2 separate regions of the Homo sapiens genome follow, and region 1 is linked to region 2. Evidence: fine-mapped expression QTL. A gene starts in region 2. The other region holds a variant in brackets. All regions are shown on one strand. Distances are between the middles of the regions.

Region 1 (8,337 bases), 27 kb before region 2:
AACACCCCTTGGGGGCTCTGCAGTTGCTGGCATCTCCGAGTTTTTGGGTACCACCACATCTCCCTTGTCCAGACGCCGGCACCCAAGGCAGAAGCTGGTCACCGCACGCCTTAACCAGCCACAGGCTGGGCACAGAGCCACAGCAGGCGTGCGATCTGGGCCAGTAGCATGAGCAGAGCGCAGCCTGCTGAGCAGAGTGGGTGAGGTGAGCCCAGCAGGCCCATGTGAAGCCCCAGCAGAGGAACTGCTGACGGTGGAGATTTTTGTCTGGCAAAGTGGCACCAAAAGAATCCTGTGTCAAAGCGATTAAGAAAATGGGGGAGATATATAATCAGAGGGAAAGATTAGGAAGAAAATTAATGTACAATGCATGCTGATTTCAAAAGTTTGAGAAATCCAGAGTATATTGTAAGGCAAAAAAGAAGGAAATGCTATAAATATTTGAAGGCCCCTTTTGTGATTGGGTAAACAATATCAGAAGACAGTCTGGGGGCAAATTCATGAAATAAGTCAATTGCACAAATAATAGTAAACTTATGGCCTCTATACTGGCACCACATGTCTTTACAAAAAGGGGCATGGGTCCATAGCATCCCACGGAAGCAAATATAGGCACATGAAGTAGAAAAACTAAGCCTGGTCTCTGAGCCAACTGTTGTTCTTTATTTCAAAGATGATTTTATGGGCTTTAAATTTTAAAATAATAATTATCATAAAGCTCTCAAATGTGGCTTTCGTGTTTCCAAAAGGAACAAAAAAGAGAGCCTTCCAGAGTGAACTGACTCTGTTGGTGGCATTTCTGGTGGCTGATGCCTGCAAAGGGCGGTGGGGGGTGGGAGAACACAGAAAAAAATAGTCCCAGAGGGAAGTAGGCAATGGGTCATACCTGAGGGCCTGGGATTCTTTCCTGCACACAAAATGTGAAGTATTTCAGTCCCATGCATGCTGAAGAACATTTTTTCATTGTTTTCATACAGATTAGATTTATGTGACCTTCTGCAGCAATGAGTAAAACATGCGGATCAGATTTCAATAAATAGTTAAGGTTACACATTACTTTTCCTGTTTAGGTTTCACCAGCACAGTGCCTCATGATGAAAAGCATAAGCAGAGGTTATAAATGAGGTAAACATAGGCTGTGGGCTGAACCAGAGAACCCAGATGACCTTCAACATCCTCAGGGAGGATCTAGAATCAGGGAGTGTGGTCAGTTTTTGGAATTTCAGTGTATGCTTTTCACCCTCATATTCAGAGAGATAGAGAGGGCAAGGAACTGAGAAGAATCAATATGACTTCTTCCCAGTCCAACCATGAGGGTCAGTGGTAGGGACAGAGAATGGGTGGTTGACAGAGGGCAACAAGGGGGATGCCCAGTGTTTTAGTGAACACATTGCATTGCCTTATTAAATTATGTGTGAGACCAGGTACAGTGACTCAAACCTGCAGTCCCAGCACTTTGGGAAGCCAAGGTGGGAAGATTGCTTGAGGCCAGAAGTTCGAGAACAGCCTGGACAATACAGGGAGACCCTGTCTCTTAAAAAAAAATAAATAAAATTAAATTATGTGTGAGTTTTCTGTTGCTGCATAACAAATTACCACAAACTTAGAGGCTTAAATCAACACTCCTTCATTAGAGCATAATTCTGCAGGTTAGAAGTCTAGCACAGAGTGACTGGGTTCTCTTCTTAGAAACTTAAAAGTTGAAATTAAGGAGTTGGCTGGGCTATGTCCCTTTCTAAAGCTCTGGGGGAAGAATCAGTTTCCAGGCTTATATGGGACAGTTGGTCAAGTTCAAGTCCTTGCGGTTGTAGAACTTACATCCTCATTTCCTTGCTGATGGTCAGTTGCAGACCAGTCTTAGCCCCTCAAGGCTGCCAGTCGTTCCCTTGCCAGAAAGAGCCCAGTCCTTTTTAAGGACTGGGTCAGGCCAACTGAGTATAATCTCTCTATCTTAATGTCCATTTATTTGGAGCCTTAATTACACCTGCAAAATCCCTTCAGTGCAGCATCTAGATTAGTGTCGGATTAAATACCTGGGAGAAGGTGTCTGTGCACCAGGGGCTGGGAATCTTGGGGACCATTTTAGAATTCTGCCAAGCACAGATTAGTTATTAAAGATTCTCCAGTCTAGCTAAGTGGTCCTTAGGGGTGGTAGTGCCAACCCCTAAGGGCTGTTTTGGAAATGTGTGGGCAAATATTTTGTTGTTGTAATCATAGTAGGGTAGGTCCCACTGGCATTTAGTGTTCAGGGCCCGAGTCACCAGAAGGCAGTCTCATACAATGAGGAATTTGTGCTGCGTCTTACACAGCTTTTGAATGTCCCCATGGGGACTCTTGTAGATGAAAAATCTGTGTATAATTTTCTGATCCTATATATAAAATATTTTTCACAGAGTTTTTGCACTGAAGTTTTCATAAGTGCAATTATGGGGTAAATCAAGGGCAGAATGTAATATAATTGTGTTTGGAATTTTGCCAAGATGGTTCACCATTTTGGAAACTTCCCATGGCCAATAATGAGCTGCTGTGACCCCTGATTACATCAGCTGTGTGTCTGTTCCTCTCTCAGGGATCTCATGTTTACATACAAGCCTCTCCCTACTTTATGCATCTTATGGAGTAATAACTGAGCGTTTACAGGTTGAAAAAAATACATATTTTGTGTCTTTAAATTGATTTGTAAACATTATATGTGTAGGTAGGTTATATTAGCTATGAATTTTATTTTAGGAGAGTAAAGGGGGCATTACAAATTTCTTAAAAGAAGCAGCTGTGGGGCTGGCAGACTTGAGAGTCAAAGGTCAACTAACAGCGTGCACTTGCTGAAGCTGGAACTGGCCAAGAGGTGAACGGTGGGCCCTGCTGCTCAGGAGTCAGGCAAGGTGAGGACGGGAAGGCATAAAAGCAGCTTAGGAATAAAGCACCAGGCAATCTGACTACACAGAACTTTGGGATAATCTACGGCAGCTGAGCAGTCCTTTGAGCTCAGCCGAAGGAACATCAAAGTCCTTTTGCTCAAGCCAATCAAACAACCCAGGTAGAGCATTTGGGGCCTGGGCAAATGATTATGTGGCTGCCCTTTCTCTGGAGGAGTGAAGGATTTCTGATGAGGATGGTGAGCCCCTGACGTAGATCCCAAAGTCACCCCTAATCACCAACCCCCAAGCATGTATTTTTTGAAGCAACTGTTGTACGACTCCCATGTACCTAAAATTGTTTTGTGTTATTTAATATAAAATATATCCAATCATATGTAAGTTAGCATGAGGTGAATTTGTGCTACTAGGTTGTTTTGAGGGTGAACTTCTGCTATGGGCTGAATTATATCCCCTTGAAATTCATCAACTGAAGCCCTAAGCCCCAGTGTGATGGTATTTGGAGATGGGGCCTTTGGGGTGATTAAGTTTAGATGACATCATGAGGGTGGGGCCATCGTGGTGGCATTAGCGCCTTTATGGGAAGAGACACCAAAGGACTTTCTCTCTCTTTCTGTCCACTGCAGGCACCAAAGAAAGAGCATGTGAGGGTATATTGAGAAGGTTGCTGTCTGTAGTGTAAGGAGAGGGCCCTAACCAGATACTGACCCTGCTGTCACCTTGGACTGTATTTCATAACAAAAAATGTAATACTGTTATAAAAAGAATAATTACATTAAATTATAATATTGTATATTAGTATCATAGAGTATAACAGCAGTTACAAACGATGAGAGTAATGGCCATGGAGACACATGGAAACTTATGAAAGGAGAACAATATTCTTCATATAGCTTATATTAATTATGTAAAAACTGTAGGCAGCAAAACAAACATTCAAAGCTACAGGAGAGGAGGCCGGGCATGGTGGCTCATGCCTGTAATCCCAGCACTTTGGGAGGCCGAGGCAGGTGGATCACTTGAGGTCAGGAGTTCGAGACCAGCCTGACCAACATAGTGAAACTCCATCTCTACTAAAAATACAAAATTAGCCAGGCATGGTGGCGGGTGCCTGTAATCCCAGCTACCTGGGAGGCTGAGGCAGGAAAATCACTTGAATCCAAGAGGCAGAGGTTGCAATGAGCCACGATCTTGTCATTGCACTCTAGCCTGGGCAACAAGAATGAAACTCTGTCTCAAAAAAAAAAAAAAAACAAAAAAAAAGATACAGGAGAGGCAGGGAGTATCTCTGGCTCAGTACTTGGCTTTAGTCTAATAATTCTCAAACTTTTTGGGTCTCAGGAAACCCTTTATCTCTTCAAGATTATTGAGGACCTCAATATGTTATGTCTATTGATATATGTCATCTTAGCAATCAAAGCTGAGAATAATTGAAATCTTTATTAATTAACTTTAACATAAAAATTGTAAACATGGGGCCAGGTCTGGTGGCTCACGCCTGTAATCCCAGCACTTTTAAGAGACCAAAGCGGTTGGATCGCTTGAACCCAGGAGTTCGAGACCAGCAAGGGCAATATAGCAAAACCCCATCTCCATAAAAAAAATACACGAATTAGCTGGGCATGGTGGCTTGAGTCTGTAGTCCCAGCTATTTGGGAGGCTGAGGTGGGAGGATCACTTGAGCCTGGGAAGTTGAGATTGCAATGAGCCGTGATCA[T/C]GCCACTCCCTCCAGTCCGGGCAACACAGTGAAACCCTGTCTCGAAAAAAAAAAAAGTTATAAATATGGTAACAACACATTTTTTACAAAAAAGAACTACATTTTTTTACAATTAAAAAAATAGAAGAATGGCATTGTTTTACATTTTTCCATCTAAAGTGAAGTACTGGCTTAATAGTGACATCTGATTCACCTATCTACTTCTACATTCAAGAGTGAAAAAGATACATAATGTCTTAGGATCATTATGGAAATAGTTTTGACATCACAGACTCTGTATAAGGTCTCAGGGAGCCCCATGGGTCCCCAGGCCATACTTTAAGAAAGACTGGTTGTGATAAGTGACACTATCAGGACGCTGAATCGTTTATAAACTCCTTTTGAACTTATATGCCCCCCACTCTTTTTTTGTGAGACAGAGTCTCACTCTGTTGCCCAGGCTGGAGTTCAGTGGTGTGATCATGGCTCACTGCAGCCTCAAACTCCCGAACTCAAGTGAGCCTCCTGCCTCAGCCTCCTAAGTAGCTGGGACTACAGCTGCACACCACCATACCCAGATAGTGTTTCATTTTTTGTAGAGATAGGGGTCTCACTATGTTGCCCGGGCTGGCCTTGAACTCCTGGGCTCAAGGGTTCCTCTGGCCTTGGCCTCCCAAAGTGCTGGAATTACAGGTGTGAGCCACCACACCCAACCATATGGCCCCTTCCTTATAGGACTCTTAGACTAACAGAAACAATAATATTAAAATATTTAAGTTAGTTTAAAGCGGATTTAATGTATTCAAGCCATAATCCCCTCTATTAGCATAGATAATTAAGTTGCTTATGGAAAATTAACACTATGTTGTTAAAATTAAGTTTCTCATAAAACCTGTTTTGGTCCTCAGCTTGGTGGTTCATAAATAATGCACTTCTTTGAAGCACTCGCATTTGAGCTTTACTAGAACTAGGGATTCAAAAATAACCCAATGGCTGAATAGAAAAGCAGAGAGGATTCATGTATAAGACAAAGGATTGAGTCACATTTAAACTCTTAAAAAATCTTTCCAGGTTCTGAGTCTAGAAGAAAAACACTGCTACTTCCCACATGTCTTTCAGCAGTTCTGATCCTTATCTCATCACCTCTTTCTTTTGAAAGCACCCATTAAAAAGATTATCAGCTCTATTGTAAGAACCCCAAAAAAGCACTAAAAGGGAAACAAATGTGTATTACAATGAAACAAATTACATTAAGTAAAAAAATATAGATCATAGAAAAACTCCTAAATTGAGGATCTGTTCCCAACCCAAACGTGCCACATCTAATTGCCATTGTTGGAATTATGACCACAAGGGAATGGGATTAATTAGGATTTACGTATGCAAATGGGTATTTATCTCTTAAAATTGTTACCCTGGAAAATAATAACTATTATTTCATTGCTGCTACTATCTTCTCAAAAAAAAAAAAAAGAACATTTTCAAAGCTTGTGGTACATAATAGGATATGAGACTTTAGTAGAATTCAAGCCTACCTAATTCTTTTATTTTAAAATATAATTGAGGCTGGATACAGTGGCTCACGCCTATAATCCCAGCACTTTGGGAGGCTGAGGTGGGCGGATCACTTGAGGTCAGGAGTTTTAGACCATCCTGGCCAACATAGTAAAACCCTGTCTCTACTAAAAATACTTAAAATTAGCTGGGTGTGGCGGCACACACCTGTAATCCCAGCTACTTGTGTGGCTGTGGCAGGAAAATTGCTTGAACCCAGGAGGTGGAGGCTGAAGTAGGCCAAGATCACGCCACTGCACTTCAGCCTGGGCAACATAGTGAGACTCCATCTCAAAACAAAAAACAAACAAACAAAAAATATATATATACACACACACACACATTTGAGACCAAAAAAAGAAAAGAGAATTGATTAATGTAACCCAACTAATTAATGTCAATGTTGGAACCAGATTCAGTTTTCTTGATGGAAAAGTCAAACTGGTTTATATTAAACCCTTATGTTAAGATAGATTTGAAAGCAAGGTTTTACTAGAAGTAGAACTGATAATATAATTGATTACATAAAATCAATTATATTTGGGATAATATCTAACTCGACGTAAGCAGAAGAGACATTCATTATAGTGAACTTGTGAAATTATTACTGCTTCTCTCTTTCATTTTACTTTCATGAAAAAATAAATAGAACCTACCCAAAAATATGAATGGACCAACAAGCAATTCACAGGGCCAGCTTTAGCCAATCTGTAGCTGGACAAATTCATCCAGTCTGAAACACGGCGCTAAAATAAAGAATGATATGGGATATGCTATCAAACTGCTCCATCTTGCCTAAGAAGGGCAGTCACCAACTGCTCCTGGTATTAAGATTTCTGGCTCATCCTACCAGCTACAATAGTGCCATAAGTTTTCCTATGCTGCCACCTACTGGATATAGTGCACATAGCCTTGAATACATCATCTGCCTTCCCGTATTAGTCGGTGTGCTTGGGTGTGAAATGGGTTAATTCAAGATATTAGCCGCTCAGTTTGGATTTAAACATCCAAATGCTGGACATTTAAAGGTTGTTTATTTTGATGACTAGAGATACCTTATGTCAACCAAAGCAAAAACCTATTGATCTGTTTTTAAAATACTTCTTGTCCTTAGAAAATTAGCTTTTAAATTTTAAATTATATCATTCCCTTTTAAAAATTGGTAACCTCAAGAGGGTAAATACACTTATATTCTTCATGCTTTAATGTAAGGCAAAATGCATTCGTCTCACTGCAATGAACAAGGCATTGATGGTTTGGGCACTATGGTTTAAGATAACTTTTAGGAAAACTTCTTTTAGAAATAGGGCATTACCGCGGGGCGCGGTGGCTCACACCTGTAATCCCAGCACTTTGGGATGACGAGACGGGCGGATCACGAGGTCAGGAGATCGAGACCATCCTGGCTTACACGGTGAAAAAATACAAAAAATTAGCCGGGTTTGGTGGCAGGCGCCTATAGTCCCAGCTACTCGGGAGGCCGAGACGGGAGAATGGCGTGAACCCAGGAGGCGGAGCTTGCAGTGAGCCGAGATGTGCCACTGCACTCCAGCCTGGGCGACAGAGCGAGACTCCGTCTCAAAAAAAAAAAAAGAAAGAAAAAGAAAAAGAAAAGAAAGAAAGAAATAGGGCATTACCCTCAGGGAATGAGGTCTAGTATGGCATTGAGCAGAAAAGGGCACTTTGTACCTTGGGATTAAGACTGGAGAAAAAGGAGTTTTAATGTATCCCCGCCGAACTCCCCTCTATTAGCATAGATAAAGAAAGGAGCTAAGTGGTGATAAAAAGTAAAAACAATAACACTTGATACATTCCAGGCACATCCCCAAGAACTTCACAATGTTCTCATGTGCTGCTCACAACAATCCTATGAGGCGGATACTGACCTCACTCTACAGATGAGGACATCGAGGCTTAGGGAGTTCATCGGCCAAGGCACCCAGCTGGTAAGGGGTGGAGCTGGTTGTATAGCCCAAGCTGTCAACCAGAGCTGTGCCGCCTGGAAGGCGGAAGGTGGAAGGATTGTTGAGCCCAGGAATTTGAGGTTACAGTAAACTGTGACCGTGCCACTGCACTCCAGTGTGGGTGACAGTGAGAACCTGTCTCTGAAAATTAAAAAATTTTTAAAAACAAATAAAGTAGCCCTATAATGGAGCCTGATAAGTGTTGGCTGTGTCCCCACCCAAATCTCATCTTGAATTGTAGCTCCCG
Region 2 (8,303 bases):
ACCTACCAAATCCCAGTTTGTCTTGATTATTGGCCACTGCGTGAATAAGTCCGATTGTGCCACAGGAATTCCCAATGGTCTGCTTCATGAAGTACACTTTAGGACTAACTTCTTGTCCCTTCAGCTCTTCAATCTGCTTTTTCCTGAAGTTCTCATGCTGCGAATGTAAAAAGCGTTTTTACATCTCAGAATGAAAGTGCAAAGAACAGATGGCAGCACATGAGTTCTACCAACTAAATGGAAACACCAGTGGGATGTGTGACCAGAACCCCTGGTTCTAGATGTTGGCTGACTCCCAGAGAAGGGCCCGTCTGTCTGCCTCCCACACCACCCACGCCAGCCAGTGGGGCTCTGAGAGGTTCGGAGACTCCACCCTGGTGCTGCAGTGCAGTGACTGCCTTGGATACTGCCCAAGGCTGTGTCTAGACACCACTGCAACCTTTCAGCCCAAAATGGTGTCACGAAGTCAGAAAACAAAGAAACCAATTCATTATTTTCTCCCTTTAACACTTAACAACTATTTCACATAGGCATCCTAAATCAAGCTTCAGTCAATTGAATGCCCAACAAGAGCACCAGCTGGTTTACATTTCATTATTCTTTAAAGTTCTACTTCTACTCGGCTTAAGTACACTTCGCTTCAAAAACAAAAACGGCCTTAACTGCTGAAAAGAACAAGTGAAAGAAATTAACCATTACCTCCGCCCTCTTTTTAAGGAAAAGACAACTGATCCAGGGTATTGGGCTGTGATTTTACAAGAGGAAGATGTGACACTAGCTTGTCCTTGCCAGCTAAACAGTTTACTTTGAGGACAGACTGGCAATTTGAGGAGGAGGATAGAGACTGGTAAATGAATCGGACTAGGAAACGGATTTCCTCAAAGCATCTGCTAGCTTTCTGTATAGTAATTTAGTAAGCCTATCTGGACTTTTCACTAACTAGCTTTAAAGACCTTAGAAGTTATGATTTCTTGAGCCAGGGTCAGTGGCTTGCACCTATAATCCCAGCTACTAGGGAGGCTGAGGCAGGAGGATCACTTGAGCTCAGAAGTTTGAGACCTTGTCTCTAAAAAATAAAAATATAATAAATAAGTTAGGACTTCCCAGTTAAAGAGTAGGGTACTAACACTATAGAAACACTGATTTCCCATAACGAGCAAAACCAGACAGACCATCAGAAACCTATTTCCAATTCTAGTAGCTTTGCATTTCTGTACATGAACTGAAGTTTAAGCTTGCTCTCTGGTACTAATAGAAGAGTAAGATCTCTTACCCCAGAAGATCAACTTAAACTCCAACTAGCAGAACTTTTTCGCTTCTATCTAACTGGATCCTCAACTTAGTATTCATTGACCAGTAAGTGTTTTTCATTTTCTAGGCTAATTAGATGAAATGTTAAAATGGGATAGCACCATCCTTTAGGGCTGCTTGAGCTCTTCCATGGAAATCATTCTGTAAATAGTCTACTAGCACTTAATGTTTCAGAAGTGGTCCATGTAGGGGGTCATAACATTCCCTTAGTCAAAAATTAAATGCCTTCCAAATTAACATTAGCATCTTTGGAGTCAACCTATAAAACCTCAACTTTTCTTTCAATCGGCTTCAGTGTTTTGTCCAGTAGGCATTCTGTGTAGCAGAATAGGCGCTCGATAAATCTGATAGGTTGAATTGAAACTAAAGGACAAAGTATCGAGCTCTTTCAAACATAACACAAACTAGAATGTTCTCTAAACAAGATTCAGCAAAAGGAGAACAGTCAGCTTTTAAAGGCAAACATGCTGCACCACTGCCTCCCAGAGGCCTTGCCTCTGAATGCTGCTCAAAACCTCCGAGTCATCATGGTTGCTCTAATAAAAAACCTCTGTGTGATGCTCAACTGGAGACAGGAGACTGATTTGGTCAACCAGGAAGCTAATTCGACTTCCAACAATTTGGCATCTTCCTTTTAGCCCAAGTAAAAGACTTTAGCAATAAAAACATGTCAGTGAGATCATCTTATTAGCTGTAAATAAGTGTTTTTACCCACAATACTTAGCTTACTTACTAGGAGGAAGGCTTGGAACTTCCCATACTCTTGATTTTGGCTACAGATGCTTCCAGAACACCTAGCCTTAGGACGGTGCTTCAGTTAACCTCACTCTTTAGAGTGATGCCCCAAGTTTTGCTAAAGCTAATTTCAGTCACTCCCACATCAGCGGTCAAGTGACAGCAATAGGAGATAAGACAATGCCATGCGCTAATGACTGGGATTCCATACATCACAAGACTGCAAATATCCTAGCTATCCTTTAAAAAAAAAAATCTGACGCTGTCTTTCAGATACATCTATCCATGCACACTTGTAGGAGGAAAATCATTTCAAGGGAAATGCAAAGGTGCTTTCAAAACTGAGCTAATAACCCCCTATTTCAGTTAGCTACAAGGTCAGAGATGAACAAGGATAAGTGAAGAGGAAGGAGGTTCCCACACAGAAACCATACACAAAATGATTAAGCTTTAAGAAATACATTCAAGAGGCTAAAAACCAAGTGTGCAAGTGGTGGGAGTGGAGAAGAGAGAAGAACCCCTTAAGACCATCAGAAACCCAAGTAATGGAGGCGGAGAATTAGCGAACCTAATTGTTTCCCTGCGATTTAGGTCAGCCCTTCCCCCTCCATTCTACAGCTAGGTGGGAGTCTGAGAAGCAAACAATGAGTTGACAGGTTATAGCCCTTAAAGGGAAACCAGCAGCCATTCCCCGGAACCGGAGGCTCGAAAAAGCCCAAGTTCGAGGGAACTCATGAGTAGGATGAATGATTTCCCTGGATAACGGGATAGATGGAACTGAGATACTGCCTCTCTTCCAAATTTAAGGCAATTGTGGACGGATGGGCAAGAAGGCGACAGGCACCGCTGGAACAGGAGCCCAGGGAGTAGGTACCACGAAAATGCAGGCTCCTCCCTTCCTTGTAGGCGCGCCCCGCATCACCTACAGGGGAGGGGGCGGGGCGGGGAGCCCCCGAGGACTCAAGCTGGGGAGCGGCGTGCACTGCCGGCGGCCGGCGCATCCTGGGCCCCACGCCCTACCTGGGCCGTGAGGGGAAACAGCAGCAGCAGCGCGCAGGCAGGCGCTGGCACCGAGCCCAGAGACTCCTCTTCCAGCCCCAGCACGTCCACGAAGCGCCACTGGCCGGCGACCCCCAGCCGGGACAGCACCTGCGGAGAGGAGACAAGGCGGCCAGGCGCACGGGGACACGCGGGTCGCGGGCACCTGCCAGGGGGCGGGGCCAGGAGGCGCGCGCCCTCCGCGCCCGCACCCGAGCCTGGGAGGAGCCCCAGTCCCGCCCTGCCACCCCCACCCGGGCCGGCGCAATGACACAGCACAAAGCGCGGCCCACACGTGGCGCCCGCGAAGCCCGTGCAGCCGAGTCTGTGCTGCCCGCGCCACGCCCTCGGGAGCTCCGCCTGGCGCTCGCTCGCCACGGGGCGCAGCCCCCTCCGTCTCCCCGTGACCGGTTTCGTAGAGTCACCCGCTAAATGCAGGGGCCCAGGAAAGGCGCCCAGCCCACGCCCCAGCCCGGCCGTCTCCGGTGCTCGCAGCGGGCGGCTTGGTCCCTGCCAGCAGCCGGAACCGGTGGGCGCCCCCGCCTCGGCGCTCGCGGGGGAGGGGGCCAGAGACGGCGCGAGACGCCACTCACTTTGTTCAGCATCTGAAAGGCAAATGCAAAGAAAAAGGCAAAACCGAACCGATCAGCGACTCGGCTCCCCCTCCCTCGGCCTCGCGCTCTCCGGGTAGCGGTGCACCTGGCGCTCACCTCGGGGTTGATCTCCATCGGCTTGAGCTGCATCTTCGCGGAGCGCCCGGCAGAAATAGCCTAGGGAAGACGAAAAACAGCTAGCGGAGCCGCCCAGGCTGCAGCTATAAAGCGCCGGCCAGACGCACTGTGAGGCCTGTGCAGGGGGAGCAGGGGCAGAACCAAGCGAGGGGGAAACGGACGGTCGCGGCCAGATGGGTACGAACCCCCCGTGCGCAGCGCGGAGTGGTACGGCCGGGCCCCCAAACCTTGCAGTCTCACTCGCCGGTGAGATAATCTGGTGGTTGTGGAGACGGGATTTGTTGGTGGGTGTTCCTTGAGTGTATGGAGCAGTCCTTTTGATGGAGTCTTTAATTTTGGGCGAAGTTTCTGGAAACCCATCCTTTCACCATCCCAATTACTCTAAAGCTCGAGTCTCTGAAGCATTTGAGAAAAAGCACAAATTCAACAGGTATATATTTAATACGAATGAATGTAAATGTGTGCCCCCCGCCCCAAATCTCTCAGCAGTTTGCGTTTAACCTTAGACAATTCCTCCTCCATGTTAAGTCAGACCAGTACCGAGGTTCGTTTTTAAGTGACTACCTAGAATAAAACAGAATCTGGTAGATAACAGATACTGCATTAGGAATGCTGATGTAATGTGACTCCCGCGGAAGAAATGGTTGGTCCTGGGAGAGCAGTAGAAAGCTGGGGGATGTGAGGGTAATACAAGACACAAAGAAGGCAGGCGATTGGAGACTTGAGAAAACAGATCCAGGGAAAAGATGGGTATGATTTTGAGCGAGAGGCTGTAAAAGGAAAAGCATTTTTAAAAGAATGGGAAGCTTTGAAAAATAAAATGTCTGAGTTCACCGCAGAATACTCCCAATGAAGAAGAAAGGGAATGGCAACCAAGGAAACCACTGTTCTCTAATGATCTCAGGTGATCTCTAATGATCTCTAGTCAAAAGATGGAGAGAGAAAGCATTTGCTGAAGAATGAATTTTAAAAGGGACCAAAATCTATAAGAATTGTGCCAGGAAAGCTAAGCTGCAGAACAAAGTGGGCTTGCAGAAATACTTAGGTAGCGAAGGAAGCAAGAAGGTTGAGTATTTTTTAAAAATAGGCACCGAAGAGAATAATGATGATGGTAAAAGAATAGACCTTCTATTTAGGAAGTTGAGGTTAACAGATGACAGAGGGAAGGGAGGGAATCAACATTTTTTGAGTTATTGTTTTTGGGGATCCTTTGCATGTGTCTCTCATTTAATCCTTAGAGGAGCCGTGAAGAGACTCATATTAGTGCAATTTTACAGATCAGAATCCCAGGCCTAGAGAAGTTAATTTGCTTACGGTCACAATTGAAAAGTAAAACTGAGAAGTAAACCCTGCTAAACTGGGCTCCAAGAGCCCATTCTTTATCTAAGATTCCACAACATTCTACTTCTATTTTCTTTCCATTTTTGCCATTAGAAAATGACCTTCACACACAAAAATGAGAGAGAAAAAAATTAGTAAGAGGAGCTTAATGGGTGAATCTTATGGTATGTAAATTTTCCCTCAATAAGGTTGTTAAAGAAAAAAAGAGGTGAAGGTCAAGACAAGTGACTAGGTTATATTGAATGAGTTCTTGCCTTTAGACAAAGACAAATTACATTTCCAATTTACTTCATTTATTCATTCACTCAACAAATATTAAGAACCTACTGTGTGCTGGGTGCCGAGCTTGGAAAGTTTGGAATTAGGCATACAAAGATGAACACAATAAACATGGAAATTTCCCTCATGCCGTTTTTTTGTTTGTTTGTTTTGTTTGTTTTGTTTTGAGACGGAGTCTCGCTCTGTCGCCCAAGCTGGAGTGCAGTGGCGCGATCTCGGCTCACTGCAAGCTCCGCCTCCCCGGTTCACGCCATTCTCCTGCCTCAGCCTCCGGAGTAGCTGGGACTACAGGCGCCCGCCACCACACCCGGCTAATTTTTTTTGTATTTTTAGTAGAGACGGGGTTTCACCGTGTTAGCCAGGATGGTCTCATCTGCTGACCTCGTGATCCGCCCGTCTCGGCCTCCCAAAGTGCTGGGATTACAGGCGTGAGCCACCGCGCCTGGCCCCCTCGTGCTGTTTTTATCAGTCATAAGAGTTGTATGAAAGGGAGCAGAGATCAGGAGCACCTAACCTAGTGGAGGGGATCAGGAAGGCGTCCTGAAGGAAGTGACATTTAAGCTAAGGGCTGATCGGCAAGCAGACGTTAGCAGTTATAAGTGATTGCCAAAATAACTAATAAAAGCAGTCATGAAATCACTGTCAGAAATATTTGTTGAAGGCATTAATTCATTCACATTCATATACATATATGGCCTACTGTTTGCCAGGAAGCATCAGAGCAGTGAATGAAACAACTCCCTGCTTACAAAGAGATGCCAGAGACTGGATATGAACAAACCTAAGCCTAATCTTTTTTAAAAAAAAAAAAAAGAAGAAGAAGAAGAAGTAGGGGGTGATTGGGAATATACTGCTGAAACTGCAGGCCAGAAGAGTTTATATCAGTCATTAGCCAAATGTTAGGACTCATAATTTTTTACTTTTAGAAACAATAAGATGGATGCATTTAGAACAAGTTATGCCAGCCAGAACTTATCTTCTTTTCTTTGGGGGTTATTAACTGGATGGACAGGTAGAACACTGTCATTGTATTTCTTATGCTGCCAGGGTTGGCATTGGTTGATACCACAGTTGAGGTGGTTTTATAGCTTATTTAATTGATTCTACCTTAAAAAAAAAAGTGGTACTGGATGGAGCTACCTCAACCTGTAGCCACCTGACAATGGTTTTAACCTTGTCTGGTGCCACTTTATTACAGCAGAGAAAAAGAGAGGTCGTGCATACAAGCAAGAACAAGCAGTCTAAATGGCAGAATTCTTAGCCAGGTGTGGTGGTGTGTACCTGCAGTCCCAGCTACTTGAGAGGCCAAAGTGGGAGGATTGCTTGAGCCCAGGAGTTCGAGGCTACAATGAGCTGTGATGGCATGACTGCATTCCAACCTGGGCAACAGAGTGAGACCCCATCTCTTAAAATAAATAAATACATAATAAATGGCAGAATTTTGGGATTAAAAAATAAGTTTAAAATAAAATGATGAAATTTAACAGGGATTTAGGTGACGATTACATAACCCTGTGAATATACTAAAAAACTAAAAAGTGGGTTTAGGTATCACAATAAAGCTATTAAAAATGTAACAGGAATATGTGTAAAGCTCTATATTATAGTAACAGTTGTCAATTATTGCCATACAGTTAATCTTTATATTAACTTTTTTCTTGATGCTATGATTGCAAAAGTATGAAATAATTTGGAAAATATCAAGTGAAAACAACACAATAGTTTGATTGTAACCTTTTAAAAATAAATACACAGAGATCAGAAGGAAAAACATTTTTTAAAAAAAATCATTTACAGATGCATTAATGAATTAGATCTGGCTTTGTGAACAGTACCTGAGAAAAAGATTCAAATATTTCAGGTGTCATAATTTGACTATAAAGCTAGTGCAATCTTTATTTATACCAGGAGTGAGAGATTCAATTTCATTTTAATCATAGGTTCCTGAAGGAGAGTCCTGAGTCCAGTAGGGGGAAAAATGCTGTGATTGATTAGTGATGTCTACCACGAGTATGGGAAAGGGAAGTGGTAAGGATAACCAGGTATTTGCTAACCTTTGGCTAGATTAATATAATATTCAAGATCTAATCCACTCACAGAATTGACCAGACTATAACTGGATTATGATGCCCAGCCTGGCATATAATGAACACTCAATAAATACTTTTCAACTGAAAATTCGAACTACCACACTTCAAAAGAGACATTGACATATTAGAGAGTTTTCAGAGACTGAGCGCCAAAATAATGAACAAAGGTGGTTGAAGAAATTGAGAAGACAGTATATGATGTGGAGAAGAGAAAGGGTTTGTGTGTGTGTTTGGGGGATGGGGAGGGGAGTTACATGATACCAAATGCTCAAAAATACAAAGAGGGCGAGAATAATCTTTATGATTATTTAAGAATACAGGACAGACAGGTAGAAGTCAGATGAAAATATTAGTTTATATAAGAAAGCACTTAATAATTAGAGTGGTTCAACATTTATGTAAATTCTTCACATGTAATGGTGAGCATGCTTTTAGCAGCATAATCATAGCTAACACTTACTGATTGCTTACGGATGCCAGGCACTACTTCTTTGTGTTTTCTGTGTATTAACTCTTTTAATCAACATAACAACCTATTAGGTAGGTTACTATTATTATTCTCATTTAGAAATGAAGATCAGAAAGGTTAAGTTCTTTGCCTATGGTTATTTAAGTCATGAGAACTGAAATTTGACCACAGACAGTCTGCACTCTTGACCACTGTACTATATTATACCAGGAGTCCTCAAGTCCCAGGCTGAGGACTGGTACAGGTCTGTGGCCTGTTAGGAACTGGGTGGCACAGCAAGAGGTGAGCGGCGGGTGAGCAAACATTACT

What was found. PIP is the estimated chance that this variant, and not a neighbour inherited with it, causes the effect.
Region 1: its variant is fine-mapped to the expression of UCHL1 in lung (TOPMed, PIP 0.95).

Annotation. Positions count from the first base shown.
Region 1 is chr4:41,279,903-41,288,239 of GRCh38, reverse strand. No RefSeq gene overlaps it. Among named protein-coding and RNA genes, the nearest start is that of UCHL1, 27 kb to the right of the region's middle. RefSeq lists an enhancer at 1-84. The variant T/C (reference allele first, on the strand shown) is at 4,594.
Region 2 is chr4:41,252,501-41,260,803 of GRCh38, reverse strand. UCHL1 (ubiquitin C-terminal hydrolase L1) reads right to left here and starts at 3,876. Exons shown (of 9, transcript NM_004181.5): 1 at 3,795-3,876; 2 at 3,678-3,689; 3 at 3,067-3,195; 4 at 7-157. The coding sequence starts at 3,827. It overlaps UCHL1-DT (UCHL1 divergent transcript), which reads left to right and starts at 4,077. Exons shown (of 3, transcript NR_102709.1): 1 at 4,077-4,245. RefSeq lists an enhancer at 2,666-3,166 and a silencer at 3,001-3,760.